Regions from separate parts of the Homo sapiens genome. Here region 1 is linked to region 2. A link means that fine-mapping ties the variant in region 2 to the expression of a gene that starts in the linked region. Tissue or cell type: whole blood. Region 2 holds a variant in brackets; the other region holds the start of a gene. All regions are shown on one strand. Distances are from middle to middle.

The links. PIP is the estimated chance that this variant, and not a neighbour inherited with it, causes the effect.
Region 1: it holds the start of EIF4E3, and the variant in region 2 is fine-mapped to the expression of EIF4E3 in whole blood (INTERVAL, PIP 0.95).

Annotation. Positions count from the first base shown.
Region 1 is chr3:71,724,110-71,726,609 of GRCh38, forward strand. It overlaps EIF4E3 (eukaryotic translation initiation factor 4E family member 3), which reads right to left and starts at 1,293. Exons shown (of 7, transcript NM_001134651.2): 1 at 1,083-1,293. The coding sequence starts at 1,258. RefSeq lists silencers at 698-817, 948-1,017.
Region 2 is chr3:71,790,244-71,793,083 of GRCh38, forward strand. No RefSeq gene overlaps it. Among named protein-coding and RNA genes, the nearest start is that of PROK2, 6.5 kb to the left of the region's middle. The variant AAAAC/A (reference allele first, on the strand shown) is at 1,093.

The sequences.
Region 1 (2,500 bases), 66 kb before region 2:
ACACTTAGCCAGAATAGACACGGTTTCATCAAAATTTCCAAATGCTCTTGGGACAACCTTGAGGTGTCATCATTGGGCACCCACTGCAGGGCAGACACTAAGAAGGGGCTTTGCATTCATCCATCTATTCATTCATAACAATTTCTGGTGTTCTTACTAGGGACCAGGCACAGTTCTAGGTCCAAAATGTCCAAAAACAAAAATCCACTGCTCTTTTATCCTTAACTGAGGGGAGGTGTTGAGGAGCTGGGGAGACAGACTGAAAGTAAACAAATTCATATATAATAAAATCCAGCTGCATTAAGCATTAGGAAGAAAAAGAAGGCAGGGCAGGAGAATACAAAACGAGGGAGCAAGGTTTCTATTTTAGATACGGTAGTCAGGGGGTCTTTCTGAAAAGATGGCACCTGGGTTGTCCCTTGAGAAAGCCATAATTCACCCCCTTCCTGACAAGGTCAGCTGCTGCTCATTATTGAATCTCCAGCGCATAGCAGGTGTGTGGCTCCACTGTAGGTGTTCAGGAAATACCTGCCCAGTGGATGAGGAAGAACTGGAAGAGGAGTCCACGGCAGCAGCGGCCGGACACGGGGTGGGAGCGCCCGCCGTGCAATAATCATTGCACCACCGCACACCTCCCAAGGGATGGGCAACTTTTCCGAGCGCTGTCACAGCTGAGGTCGTGTCCTGAGCTCCCAGGCGCCCCGCGGGGTAAGCAGGACAGCCCTCTCCCTGCAGCAGGGACGCGGCCACCCCCAGCTCGCCTACCCTCTCCCACGGCCCTGCCAGCACGCCGCGTTCCGATCGGAAGGGAACAAGGGGTAGAAAGTGTTGCCGAAACTTTTCGGGCTGCGCTGTCCTCCCCCGGCCCGGAGGCGAGGACGCCGAACAGCCGCCCGGCGCGGCCCGAAGCTGGCTTCCGACCCGGCGGGGCGAGTCCCGGGGTGCGCAGGCGGACGCGCGGAGGGGCCGAGGTCTGTGCCACAGCGGAGCGGGGCCGGGGCGAGGGGCCGCGCCGAGACAAAGCGGCGGTGGCGGCAGGACCCGGGTCGGGGCCGTGCGCGGCGGGCCCCGCGCCCCCTCACCTGTCGAGCCAGAAGGTCCAGGACGAGTGCAGCGGGACCCCGCCCGGCTCAGGCTGCAGCGCCGACAGCTGCTGCAGGCCGAGCGGCGGCTCGGGGGCGGCGGCAGCGGCGGCGGCGCGGGACCCCGGCGGCTCCCGGGCCCCGGCGGGGGGCGCGGCGGCCGGGGGCAGCGCCATTTTCTCCGCCCCGCCTGCAAGGCCGGCGGACGCGCGGACCGCGGGGCGAGCGCGGCTGAGTCACCCCCGGCCCCCGCCCCGCCCCGCCCCGCGCGCCCCGCCCCGCCCCGGGCTAGCCGCCCGCCGCCCGCCGCCCGCCGCCCGCCGCCTTCAGGGCCTGGGAGCCGCGCGGAGGGGCCGTGGGAGGCACGGCCGGGCCGGGGCCGCCGAACAAAGACAGACCCACGGAGGGATGGGGGGCCGATCCCGCTCAGGCGCGGGCCCAGCGTGGGAGACTGACGGCCTGGCCTGGAGTGGCGGCCGGGGACGGGCTAGAGGGCCCACGGGGGTGAGAGGGACCGGGGAACGGTCTGCGGGCTGGCTCTGCAGCCATGCAAAAGGGCAGCGGGATGGAGCGGCAGGCTAGGGACAGATGGAGGGATGGATGGGACAGGGGATGGAGCCCCAGACCCACGTGGTGCGAGGGAAGGAGGGATGGACAGACATACCAGCAGTCAGAAGGATGGAGTGAAGGCTGGCAGATGGCTGGAGGAGAGAAGGAGGGATGGAGGGCAGATGGAAGCACAGTTGGGTGTGACAGATAAATGGAGAGGGGAACCGATGGCCAAATGGATAAAGAGACTCCAGTGCCCGCGAGTACAGAACAAAGGGCGAGAAAGAAGAACGAACAAGAGAACCACCGACTGGGGCATGAGGTTGGAGCAGGTGGGCTTTGCATTCCTCTTGGTGAGAGCATACTTCCTAACTCCGCTGATTTGAAGGGGCCAGAGCCCCCATCCCAACCTCTGGAGCTACCATGTGACCACAGTGAAGGCCTCAAGCCTGGCTTAACGTGTGGCTAACTTCAGAGAACATTTCCCAAAATCAGCCAAAGTATCCAGATCTGCCCTAAAGCACCGGCGAGTCGGGAGGAGGAAAGCGGGCACCTGTGAACACAGAGCGCTCTGCTTCCTGTACCTCTGAGCACCCAGGAAGTCCCTTAGGCGGTGAGATTCCTGAGCCCAAAGTAGGAGGGGCCCTCCTAACACAGCATCTCCCCAGGTCTCTGTCACTTTCTTTTTCAAAAGAAAAGCAAAGGCATGAGGCCTGTGAACACACATGTCACAACCAGCATGGACATCCTCTTTACACTTGAATTTCTAGATAGTTCCTCTCTGGCTTTGAACAGTGAAGGGCGTGGGATGCCATCTCCTCATTGACCTTCTACCTGGCCTAGCATGTGTTCTGTTCATGCCTTGAGCA
Region 2 (2,840 bases):
GATTACTGTCACTGTCATTGCCTCAAGACTGGCCTCCCGGGTTCACCCTTGCCCTCTACATTCTATCATCAACACCTATTTTTTTTTAAAGTAAGTTAGACTCTTTGCTCTAAACCCTGCAGTAGTTTCTCGTTTCTCTCGCAGAGACCTTCAGATCTTTGACTTTGTTTACTACTCCTACCTCTTGTCTTCCTGCCAGCTCTGCTCCTGCCACACTGCCCCCCTGGAGGTTTCTAGAACACTCAGGGCATGCTCCCACTTTGGGAAATTTGTCCTGGATCTTCTCCTTGTCAGACTGCTCTTTCCCCAAATAGCCACATGGCAGACTCCCTTGTCACTTTCGAATGTTTGTTCAAATCTCACCTTTGCAAGGAGGCCTATCCTAACCACCCTTATTTACATTTGCAACTGCCCCAGCATGCCAGTTGCCTTTTAGTCCTTTTATATTTCACTTTTCCCTAGCACTAAGACCTTCTAGCATATTCTATTACATATTACGTTTTATCTTTGTTGCCTTACTGCCCCCACCTCCCCACACATACACCAGAATCTAAGCGCCACAGGATAAGGGATGTTCAGAAACTTTGTTCTGTTCACTAATTTATCTCCAGTACCTAGAAAGATGCCTGGCACATAGTAGGCACTTGATAAATATTTGTTGAACAAATTACAAAAAATATAGAGAAGAGATTGGAGAGTGGCTGAGAGCAGGCCTGATGAGAGGCCATGGCAGCGGTCCAGGTGGCCTCTGCTAACGGTGTTGGCAGCAAAGAGGGAGAGAGGTGAACCCACTCACTTAAAAAGTAGAACAGGTAGAGAGCTGGGCGTGATGGCTCACACCGGTAATCCCAGCACTTTGGGAGACCAAGGTGGGCAGATCACCTGAGGTCAGGAGTTGGAGACAAGCCTGGCCAACGTGGCAAAATCCTGCCTGTACTAAAATACAAAAATTAGCCAGGTGTGGTGGCTCATGCCTGTAATCCCATCTACTCAGGAGGCTGAGGCAGGAGAATCACTTGAACCTGGGAGGTTGCAGTAAGCTAAGATAGAGCCACTGCACTCCAGCCTGGGTGACAGAGCAAGACTCTTTCT[AAAAC/A]AAACAAACAAACAAACAAACAAACAGCAAAAAAACCAAAGTAGAACAAGTAGAATTTACCATTGGTTAAGATAAAGGCTGGACAAGAAACGTCAAGATTCACCTTGTATAACTGATTGACAGTGCAGATGGATGCTGAGGTGTTGGCAACCTCTGGGTATGGGGAAAGGCAATCAGACAGACCCGGGGTACAGAGAAGATGGTGGCTAGAGCTAAAACTCAGGCAATTTTCCCCTTAAAATTTTCAGATTTCATATAATGTAGGCACAGTGGTAAGAATTTAGATCAGGGGCTGGCAAACTGAGACTTACTGCCTGTTCCTGTAAAGAAAGTTTGAGTGGGACCCAGCTACACTTGCCAATGTTTTGTCTAAGGCTGCCTTCACACCACAAGGGCTGAGTGGAGTATTTGCAAGAGAAACTATATGACCTGCAAAGTTGAAAATGTTTACTCTCTGGCCATTTACAGAAAGTTTGCTGACTCATGCATTAGATCATAAAGAGCCTAGAGTTTTATTATTGCCCCTCGAGTAAATTGTTTCCCACCTCCTTTTCCTAGGTCTGTTCTGGGCTGTCCTTTTGAGGCTCTCTCTGTTTACTGGTGGAATTCATCTGCTTTCTGAGTTGTGGGAATTTGCCCAAAGTTCTGGCTCACTGGTGGACCCCTTGCATGTTCACCTTGTTATGTGTACTTTCATCTCAATTGCCAGTTATATAGTAAGTGCTCAATAAATGTGTTGGTAGAATTGGGGAAAGGAAGCAAATGGGTCTTCCATCTGCCATCTTGCAATGAAAGCCTGACACAATCTCAGCTACATAAAGGAAGAGAACTTCTGTTACTCTTTTACATGAAGCTCTAGTTTTATTTTTAATTTTTTAAAAAAAATTTATTTATTTATTTTGAGACAAGGTCTTTCTCTGTCACTCAGGCTGGAGTGCAGTGGCATGACCACAGCTCACTGCAGCCTCTTCCTCCCAGGCTCAAGCTATCCACCCACCTCAGCCTCCCGAGTAGCTGGGACTACAGGTGCGCATCACCACATCTGGCTAATTTAAAAAAAAAAAATTATGGAGATGGGTGTGTTACCCAGGCTGGTCTTGAACTCCTGGGTTCAAGCAATCTCCCACCTTGGCCTCCCAAAGGGCTGGGATTACAGGTGTGAGCCACTGTGCCTGGCCTGCTCTGGTTTTAAAAATGATTCCAGCTTGTCTGAGGGCTTACTTTGTATGTACCTTCTTCGTATGACTTCTAATTATTTTCACATAATAGGTGGGTCTGGTAATTTCCTAGCTAGGTCCCATTTGTCTTTGTGTAAATGATTTTTCATTTAGAAGGGTTCCAAAAAAGTAAAATAGATATTCTTATTTTTTTCACCCTTCATCTTTTATCACTGTTCTATTACATGGTGGCTTTTCTTGTTAACAAACCCATAATATCAGTCTGAAATATCTTTTAAATATAATAACTATGCTTTAAATGTGACATGAAAAATGAATTGCTTTTATAATTCTAAATAAGACATCTATTTTAATCTTTTCAAAGCTGATGATTTCTCTTTATATTTAAAAATAAATCACCAAGATTCAATTTGAAAGCCAATTGTCTATGGAGGCACTAACAATTATTTGGTCTATTCAAGTGATAATGTAAAATAAAGTTTACCTATTTTTAAATAGTTGAAATATTAATTCAAGAGAAAGACTTTTTAAAAAAAAATTAGTATAAAATGCGTTTGAAATAATAT